3 linked regions of the Homo sapiens genome follow. The protein of the gene in region 2 interacts with the protein of the main gene of each other region in a biochemical or structural test. Each region holds a gene or a part of one and is shown on either strand. Other genes may lie near its edges.

Region 1 (3,500 bases), about 38 Mb from region 2:
CTATAGCAGGTTTTACATTTAATATGTCTATTTTTCTAACACATCTTGGACATCTGCAAATGTTTCTTCCTTTAAGTCTCTGAGTACTTGTGTATTAGCTTTAGCTTGTGACATGAGGAAGGACAGAAGTGAAATGCCTGTGACACATTACTTCTAATGGGATTGGTGTGGATTTCATAAGGGAGATGACACTTGGAGTAGTGGTTGTGGTTGGGTGAGACTTCAACATACAGGCACAATGGCTAGCTTGAGTACTTGCAGGAAGGCAGGTTCAGAACTGCCTGCTCCTTTTCACCTTACCTCTGCATGCTGGAGTTACTGCTGTCCATTGTCCTGAAGGTCTGCAGCTGAGAGTGCTGTCTCCTATGAGTGTGAATCCAGCGTTGCAGCCAAAGTAACAAGTGGTATTAAAACCAAAGGTTCCCGGATGATGCCTACAGTACATGGTTCCCTGCCCAGGAGTGGTGAGGGCTGGACATTGCACCCCTGGAGTAGGAAGTGATGCTATGCCTGTTGTGAGAAAATGTTTCCATTCAGAGACCTCCCAATTAAAAGAAGCGTTAACAGAGTTAAGGCTAATCTGGAATAACTGCTTTTCACTCCCTTCATAACAAGGGAGGCTCCTGCAAGAGCTATTTAAGGAAGTTAAGAAAAACTATCAGTGTCAGAGATAGAAAACCAGATGAGGAAAATTATTAAAAATCATCCTTGAGGAGATGATTCTCCTGGCCAAGAGAAGAAATCAGAGGAGTCATTGTTGTTGCTATTTTAAAAAGAAGCAAGAAATGGTACAGAAATATAAGAAATTCAGCAGAAAGCCAAATATACATGGGCCAACTGCCTGCCCAACCCTGCCTTATTGGGAAATGGTACTGTTCTCTGACTAAAGGTCAATGTGAAAGTTGAAATTTACTGCAATGATTGCTTTCTGTCTCAAACTATTTCTTCCATTTGAATGATCCCACCAGCTTTGTCATTAACTTGCCATGTGGCAGGAAGATGATGATTGACCTCTCTGCACCTCAATTCCTAGATTTGAAAAACTGGACCAGTGACTCTACCCCAGTATTGTCTGTTTCTCTCAGCAATAAATTAATGGAGACCATTCCGTTCACTCAACAAAGCTCTTTCAAAAAAAGAAGCCATGAAACAAAATTCCTGCTTAAGAATCAATATACCTTTTATTCACAAACATAAAAATATCCTGTCACTCCTTAGACATTTTAAAATCCTTCAGCTGTTTGCTAAACCCAAATAATGGTAATATATACAATTATCTAGTTCACATATAAGAACTAGATAATTGTTTGTTGTTGTAGAATAAATTTCCAAAAGTAGAACTGTCTTAGCAAGTACATATTATTACCTTTGCAGGTTGGTGGAGTAGCTGACCATCTTCCAGAAGTTGTGCATTCCACATTATTGGGCCCCTCCAGCTTAAAGCCGTTGTCACAAGAGAAATGGCAGGTGGAGCCAACATTGAATTCTCCACGAGTGTCAGAACAATCCAGGCTGCCCTGCTCTGGGGCAAAGAGTTCTGGGCACTTGATGGCTAGAGTATCAAATTAAGAGTGTCACAATCTCCAAGTTTATTCAGAAGTTCTGTGTTACACAAAGTTCATTCACTTATATATTCAAAAAATATTTATTAAGCACCTATATTCCAGGTATTTTGCTAGGCAGCAGCATTCCACAACATATCATGTAGGTCATTTGCTGCAAAGGGCAGTGGGAGGATGGTAAGCTTACAGAGAAGAGTATAGGTACAAGTCACGAAGACAAAGAAGTCAAAGATTTAGGCAGCCATACTCAAGAACTTACAATGTCACCCTATTTTCTCTACACCCTCTGCTTCAGAGACCTCGTAGCCTGCCGCAGCTCCCTCTATCTTACTTGAATGGGTGCAATCCAGGATTTCATTTCCGCCCTTCCTCTTGCCTGAGACTACTTGCTCCCATATATCATGCCATCTTCTCAAATTCAACACACCTAAAACTGCAATGATTGCTTTCTGCCTCAAACTATTTCTTCCATTTGAATCTCCTCACTAATTGTTTTGTTTATTTTGCTGTTGTATTTTAATACCACCCATCCAGATAACACAGGAAAACTCAAAACCTCCTGGTCAAGATAGATTAGTTTCTTGGAATTCCCTGAAGTGACTTTGTGTGTTATTGCTTCTGGTTCTTGGCTCACATTCCCCTGAGAATTTTTCCACTTTTATGGCGTAAAATCCCACTAATCCTCCAGGATTTAACTCGTAAAGTCTCTGAAGACTCTGCTGATCACCACAGCCTGAACTCTTCTCCTCTGAATTCTTCAACTTTTTGTCTGAACTGATGTGCTGTCATGTCCCATGTCATACCCTCACTCTTCTACTGGATGGGAAAGTGTCTAAAACCCAAGAATGATTCATCCTTGAGTCTTCCATAACTCCCATCCCAGGATCTCAAGAGGCAGTGCTCAGTAACCACTTGCCAAGTGAATGAATAAATGAATTTAAATTTTAATTCACAATTTCCCCCCAAAAGTATTTTTACAAATTATTGCAGTTACATATTTTCTTAGCATTATTCTTTTCTCCCCATTAATTCTCTAATATAAGACTATTATTTATCAATAAATGTTGGGTTATAGACAAATGAAGTGACTATTCTTTCTTTAAATCTAAGGCTATTCTGACAACAATACCTTGGTCAGATAAGTCTCATTTACTTAGATAGTTTGATTTTTACAAACCTCTTCAAGACCTATATGCTCCCTCATGGAAAACCAATGTACAGTATTTGGCTTTTACATACTGGCCCATGTATTTTTCAGTAACAAGCTATTCATTGAAGGATTATGGATTCTTATTGCATGAATCCATTCAAATAGCCAAAATAACACAGTGAATTTCAGTTCAGTACTCTCAAATTGTTGAGTAATTAACAACTTCATATCTGACACATCAAATCAATTTACTAAACCTTTTTGAAACATGTCTACTGGTGTAACTCCTAGACATGAAGTCATCTGTGAACATTTTCACAAAAATAACTTTTTCATAATCTCCCAGAATTACAACTTTAAACTGAAGAATATGTATAATGTCAGCTGCAGGAAAGCAGGGACCTTGTCAGTTCTTTGAACACTGTATCCCAGAGAACAGGGCCTGACACATAGGAGGGGTTCTACAAATACTTATGAATTGAATGAATACAGTAATGAATACAATTTAATTTAAATGCATTCTAAAAGGTATGCCTACCTGGTTTGAAAAGAAACAAGAGGAATTACTGTTTTTAAAAATTAACCGAAGGGGGCCCTAGTATAAAATGAGAACTACTACAGCATTAAATTCATTTGGGGGATAGTGCTTTGGTTTCAGTCTTATCAGTCATGCTCAGCCAAGGTTACATATCCAGACTTTCATATTTATAAAAGTCTCTGAACTCTCTCAGGTAAAAATTAACCTTGACCCTTACATACTAAGAATTTGGCTCTGGATCATGTAAAGA
Region 2 (3,650 bases):
ATCATCTGCTTTATGTTTTAAAAGGATCATGCTGGCTGCTGAGTAGAGAATAGAGGTTGAGGGATAAGAAAGTAGAAGGAGACCGTAGCAAGAAGAACGATCATGGCTGGGAGCAGGTGATCATATTGGCAGTGATGAGATCAAGCAGAATTCAAAAAGTGGTTTCAAAGTAGAGGTAACAGGACTTGCTCAGTCTATTTATTTCTTCAAATAATAATCATATTTACAATGATAGTAGCTAACAGTTTTTGAGTGCTTACTGTATGAAAATTGAGATATGGTGCCAATATTTAAATAGCATATTTTACTTAACATTCACAGAAACCCTGTGAAGTAGGTTCTATTATCTCAGAAAAAGAAACTGAAACTCAGAGAATAACAAGGGACTGTGTTACGTGCACAGTGGCAGAGGCAAAGATGAATAGGATGTGAGTTTATTTGAACCCCAAATGTTTAAATCTTGGGGATAATACAACACACATTTAAACAAAGAAGCAAGAAAAAAAATGCACAACAGAAAGTGAGAAATAACACGAGGAAAGACTAAATGAAGTGCTTTGTATCTAGATGTGGGCAGGACCCTTTCCAGCTGAGAAGATCTGAGACTGGGTCATGAACAGGTGGTTTCTGAGTGGGTCCTGTAAAAATGAATACGATTTTGATGATAGTAATGAGTAAGGACATTTGAGACTGATAGAAGAGTACATACAATATGTAGTGATGGGGAAAGATAAGGTACTGTCAAAGGACAATGTGTTTTCTGGTATGACAGAGAAGTAGAATGTGTTAAGGGAAGCCGAGTACCAGAAAGATCCGGGTGTCACAGTTTGTGTAGGGTGTTTAAAGCTAAACCACAGAGTTTAATTTTATCCAATAGAAGAGGAGCCACAGAAGAGTTTCCATTTATTCATTAATTTATTCATTTATTCAAAAAATATTTGAGTGCTTATTATAAGCCAGGTACTATGCCAGGCACCTGGGATAAGACATAGTCCCTTCTGTCAAGTCTTTACATTGGGTGGATGTGGGAGGGACAGATGACAGAACAATATGCATTGAGTGTAAGTGCTATGGTATAGGAAGCTCTGAGTGGGAGGGGCATGGAAGCCGTGGAAGACCATGGAAGGCTTCCCAGGAGAAGTGACGTCTGGACTGATCCTTTGGTCAAGCAGGAGTTAAAGAGGAGAAAAGGAGAGATATGGGTGTTCCCGAGAGAGGAAGAAGCCTTGTCCCAGGAGCAAAGTGAGGGTGATTGTTCCAGAAATGTGAGTGATTCTTTTAAGGCTCAAGCAAAGCATGTGATTCTTCTTTATACCTTCTATTTCTTTGCTGAGTGTTTCTGTTCTTTTGTTTCAAGCATGCTGCAATTGCTCATTAAAGCATGTTTATGATGGCTGTCTGTTTTAAAATTCTTGTCAGATGGTTTCAACATCTTTATCATCTCAATGTTGGCATCTGTTAATGGTTTTTTCTCAATCAAATTGAGATTTTCCTGGTTCTTGGTATTACCAGTGATTTTAATTGCATCTGGAAATTTGGGATTTATGTTGAAAGACTGGATCTTATTGAAAGATTCTGTTTAGCACCCCTCCTTTGATACCACACTGGTGGGTCCAGGTTCCCCATTCAGCTGTTGACACCTTCAGGGCAGAGAGGTGGGATGGGGTGAAGGGGGTACCTCATTATTGCTGGCCCAGGTTAGAAGTTCAGGCTTCCCAGTAGATCTCTGCTGATACCACCCTGGTGCCATGTCATTCCTTGAGTCCAAAAGTCCCTCCCAATTCTGCCTTCTTCTCTCTACATATCGGAGTCTCCCTATGTTTGACTTATATATAATGTCCAGGGTTTTTAGAGTTAGTTAACAGGAGGCATAAGAAAAAGTGTGTCCACTCCATCTTGTCTGGAACTGGAAGTTCAAGTCGAATATAAGAGAGAGGAGAGGAAATTACAAGCCATGAGACTGGAGAGTTAGGCAGGTTCTACACCAGCTATTCTCAAAGCCCTCTTACACTCTTAAAAATTTAGAACTTCAAAGAGCTTTTGATTTTGAAAGTTACATCTATCAATTATTACTGTTTCAAAAATTAAAATTGAGAAAATTTTATTTATTAATTTGTTTAAAAATAACAATAATTATTCAATTACATGATAATGTAAGTAATGCTTTTCTTAATGAAAAATAATTATATTTTCCAAAACAAAAACAATTAGGAAAAAGAGTGTCATTGTTTTAGACTTTGGTAAATCTCTCTAATATCTGGCTGAAGAGAAGAATGCTGATTCTTTTTTTTTTTTTTTTTTTTTGAGACGGAGTCTCGCTCTGTCACCCAGGCTGGAGTGTAGTGGTGTGATCTCGGCTCACTGCAAGCTCTGCCTCCCGGGTTCACGCCATTCTCCTGCCTCAGCCTCCCAAGTAGCTGGGACTACAGGCACCCGCCACCACGCCCGGCTAATTTTTTTGTATTTTTAGTAGAGATGGGGTTTCACCGTGTTAGCCAGGCTGGTCTCGATCTCCTGACCTCATGATCCACCCACCTCAGCCTCCCAAAGCGCTGGGATTACAGGTGTGAGACACCGCGCCCAGCCCCCGAATGCTGATTCTTTTATCTGCTTCTGTATTCAATCTGTTGTGATATGATGGGTAGCCTCTGAAACACTCCACTGTATACTTGTGAAAGAATGAATGTGAAAAAGGAAAATAGATTTGTAGTATTATTATTCAAATTGTTTTGACCTCAGAGACCACTTGGAAATGTTTTAGGGAACCCCCAGAGGACCTTGGATCATGCTTTGAGAACCGCGGCTCTAGATATGTTACTATTTCAGTAGCATCTAAGTACATGTGGCTGCTGAGCACTTGTAATGTGGCTAGTGCAAATGAGAGACAGGACTTCCAGCTATATGTAATTTAATAAACTCAAATTTAAAAACTGGAACCTCATAAAATGTTTTGTTGTTGTTGTTAAACATGACCTTATAGTTTTGGTAGGAATACATTTCACTTTAACCCTTCAAAATTTAGCATTTGAATTGAGATATGCTGTATATGTTAAATACATGACAGATTTTGGGGACTTAGAAAAAAATAATGTAAGATATTTCATTAATAGTTTTTATATTGAGTATTTTTTGCTATGATAATATTTTTGATATATTGGGTTAAATAAAATGTATTTTAAAATTAATTTAAGCTATATTTATTAAAATCTTTAGAATGTGGATAATAGAACATTTAAAATGACATACGTGGTTCACATTTTATTTCTCCTGGAGTGTACTGCTGTAGATGAATTTAGATGATGAAGGCTTTGTGTGTCATGTAAAGCTTATTCTTTATTTTGAAGGTAATGTAGAGCCATTGAAAAGTCTGAAGTAGAGAAGTGACATATCAGATTTGCATTTTAGAAAGCTTACTCTGGCTTCAGTGTGGAGCATGGACTGAAGAAGGAACCAGTTAGGGTTAGGAGGTGATTGCATTATTGAAGGGTAGGAAGACTGTGGCCTGAAGAAAAGTGGCTAAACCAGAGACATATGGCTGGGCGCAGTGGCACACGCCTGTAATCCCAGCACTCTGGGAGGCTGAGGCAGGTGGATCACTTGAGGTCAGGAGTTCGAGAGCAGCCTGGCCAAAATGGTGAAACCCTGCCTCT
Region 3 (3,500 bases), about 38 Mb from region 2:
ACATCAGAGCCCCTGAGTCTACTAGAGTATTGGGAGCAAGATGTTCAGAGAAAGAGTGGGTCTCCATAATAAGCCTTCTTTGCAAGGAGAGAATATAAAAGTCTAGGAAGCATTTTGACCTCAATTCTGTCTTCTATTCTAGCTCAGTTCCAGAATTTTAACTCTTTTGATTTTGACAACCCTCTCCAGAAACTGTATCTATTTCCCTGTTCTGATTGGTGGTACAATAGGTAAATTTAAGACTTGGAAATCAAAGTTTTCACATTTTAGACCCTGCCATGCCATTTAGTAAACAGTACAACTTTCATGTCTTATTCCTCATCTGTCAAATTTAAGCCATTATTGCTACCTTGCTCTAGAGACTTCAAGGAAGAATGGACTCAAGGAATCAGAAGAATTTTTGTATTTGGAAACTATATGAGATGAGATTAGGGAGAAACATGGGAACTAAGAGAAAATGTTATCTTTTTTCATTGATTTAAAGAGTATCTATTATATATCAAGCATTACTCTGGGGCTTGAAGAGCTTAGATTTCACCCTGTAGGACAAAATGGTAGGTAGAAATTAATGGGTGGATTGTCATGTATGTGTGATGTGTTTTAATTGCTTTTAATTGATCAGTCTCCCTGTAGTATGAATAATGTATTTGAGGGGAGCTAATTTAAAATTGTGGAACTCATCTAATAAACTATTGCAAGAATCTAGAAGAAAGATAATGACGGCAATGGTAGTAGAGTTGACAAGTGGAAGACAAATTAGAAAAACACTAAGTTGTAAAAATTGGTAGAATGTTACCCTGCATAAATGTTGGGGGAGTTAAGAGAGTCTCATACCAGGGTGCCCATGTAAATGGTGATTCCACATACTGAGATAAGAAATACGAAGAGAAAAGCTGACTGGGAACAATTGGTTTTATAGTCTTTTAAACATCCCAAAGGACATCCTTAGCATATTTGAGTTCAGAGCTGGAGATAGGCTTATCAGTCCAAAGATCACATAGATTTGTGAGTCCGCAAAAGTCAGTAAGTTTGACCAAAGGATACATGTAGATTAGAGTCAGAAGAGCAATATACAAAAGACAAAAGCTGAGAAATTATAGTAGTTTATGGTCCTGGATAAGTGCTCATGAAGGATCTCAGGAGAAATGATCACAGGTAGAAAGAATGAGAAAAGAGTGATATGAGAGAAACCAAGACAAAGAAAAGTAAAATGTTAAAAATGAGTGAAATAGGCATACCAATAATTAAAAATGAGTAAAATAGGCATACCAATAACATAAGGGTTAAAAAATAGAGTTCAAAAATGGGGTGAGGGTAAAGTATTAGGAAGGAGTCATGGCCCAGGGATCAAGTGAAATGAGTTAGATCTATAGATCTATTTCAGTTGGTTGACATTTAAATGTATTTTGGTTTTAATTCTTTATTGTTTACAAACATTGCTTTTTTAAAAAATTAAATTGTCCAATTCAATTCAGGCTCACAAGCAAGTGCCTCATATATACAGGCATTTTGTGGATCCCAAAGATGCAATGATAAATAGGACACTTACTGATCTCAAGAAGTTTTCAGTACCAGAGGAGACGGACAAGTGAACAGATGACTTCAACATAAGTGGGAGAAATGAGGAAGAAATATGTGGAGCTATCAGAACTAAGAAAGCTTCCTAGAAGAAACTGTCTTTGAACAATGTCTTAAAGATGACATGTTTTTTGGCCATGTGCAAAATGAGAGAGAAGGCCACCAGCAAAGTCAGTGTGCTACAGAGCACATGTGTTAAGTGTGGAGAACTGCAAGAAGGAAAGGAACTACTAGAAGGAAAAAGCAAGATACTTTCTGGGTAACTCAGCCTCCTAATGATAAATGGCATAGTTTCTTCCAGACCTTAGAGTTCTAATTAATCTAACAAGCTCATTAGATCGTGAGCTTCTTGAGAGCGGGAATCTACCATGCTAATTCCTTATGGTAACCCTGACAGCTTTTATCCCAACACTGTGCTTCTTGTGGTACTCAAAAAGACTTGTTGAGAAGTGAGTCGAAACTTCATGCTGACTTATGAAATCTTTACGGAAAGGTAACAATATTGTGAAAGCAGAGCTTTCTGATCAAAACTTCCCATTTCTCAGAGTGGCTAGTATCATTTTGTTCCAACCAGCTTCATGATAAGCTATAATGATTCCTGTGACTTTACCTAAGAAGAAGCAAAGAAAGGAAAGAGACTTACCAAACTGACACTGGGGCCCATAGTACCCCACATCACAGTTGCAGGTGTAATTATTGATGATTTCTACACATTCTCCATGGCCACTGCATGACCAGGGCTGGCAAGAAGCTTTAAGGAGGTCAGAAAAAAAATATTTTAATGTGATTACATTTTAGTACTCAAAGTCATTTCTTTAGACATAGATAACCTTTTGTCTGAGATGATTTAAATAATCAGGAAAGGTTTATTTGTAAATTCATAGCATAAAAATCATATGCTAAAATTTTTACGTATAAAATACACTAAGCATATAGTCATAGGCATTTATTTGCTTTTGGAATGAAATTACCAATACTAATATTCTGTAACACTTATAGGAAACTTAGTGGCATACCTTGAAACTCTTGAAATTACTTGTTTTTAATGAGTGAGAAGGTTAAATGATGACCTGACCTCAATCATTTCTGCATGCAATTATTTCTTGGCAATCCCTTTCTTTATAGAAATCAAAGATTAAAAAGTCCAAATTTGCTAAAACGGTAGAGTCCAATTTATAAGAGACCAAATTAACTATGGTTCATTATTAAAACATCACTTGGAAAATGCTGGCTGTTTTGGAATTGTAGAAGATTTTACAGAAATATTCATACACCAAAGATAGTGCAATTTTTATATAAAATTATATAAGGTTAGACCAAGAAGGAAGCACGCAGCACCACACTCTCTACTTCACAATGTGAAAACTGAGGTGATGTGAGCCTAAGTTTCCAACTGGCCCCAGCTGTCAGCTTCTCCTCCCCTGCCTTATTATCAAAGGCACTGATTGTCTAGCTCTTCCTCTGTACTTCCTACGTAGATCTATCATTTTGATGTAACTTGATTTAGGGGTATAGCTTTTGTGCACAGGGACAAATCTTACACACCAAAAATTCTTAGGAGTGACACGATGCAAGATTATATAGAGGGCTAGATGTATTTTAGAATGAACCAGAAGCTGTTCTCATCCCCCCACCTTTCCATGGGGTAAATCTGAGTATTCTCTTAACCGTGGCCCTTCCTGAGTCTGAGGCAGCATAGCCGTCTTGTCACTCCCTACCTGTGTAACAGAGGGCTGCCTTTAGTTTGTGGCAGGCGTCATCGTTCCATTTGCCTGCATCTTTGTTTCTCTTGATATAGATCTCCACGCAGTCCTCCTTGTTCTTCTTGTTGTTGGGCTCACCATCTCCCCAGTTCTCTGCTTCTTCAGTAAGAGATTTGTTGGTTCCCACCCACGTCCATATTCCTCCTATCTTCCGGATTC

Evidence for each region.
Region 1: the proteins of CD34 (region 2) and SELP form a complex in vitro, tested with the Homo sapiens proteins (one large-scale study listed by IntAct).
Region 3: the proteins of CD34 (region 2) and SELL form a complex in vitro, tested with the Homo sapiens proteins (one large-scale study listed by IntAct).

Annotation. Positions count from the first base shown.
Region 1 is NC_000001.11:169,595,625-169,599,124, forward strand, and holds part of SELP (P-selectin precursor), read right to left. Parts: intron 1,553-3,500; coding exon 1,367-1,552; intron 511-1,366; coding exon 301-510; intron 1-300. UniProt on the Homo sapiens protein: Ca(2+)-dependent receptor for myeloid cells that binds to carbohydrates on neutrophils and monocytes. Mediates the interaction of activated endothelial cells or platelets with leukocytes. The ligand recognized is sialyl-Lewis X.
Region 2 is NC_000001.11:207,880,314-207,883,963, reverse strand, and holds the end of CD34 (hematopoietic progenitor cell antigen CD34 isoform a precursor), read left to right. Parts: 3' UTR 1-2,992; downstream 2,993-3,650.
Region 3 is NC_000001.11:169,705,121-169,708,620, forward strand, and holds part of SELL (L-selectin precursor), read right to left. Parts: coding exon 3,297-3,500; intron 2,330-3,296; coding exon 2,222-2,329; intron 1-2,221. UniProt on the Homo sapiens protein: Calcium-dependent lectin that mediates cell adhesion by binding to glycoproteins on neighboring cells. Mediates the adherence of lymphocytes to endothelial cells of high endothelial venules in peripheral lymph nodes.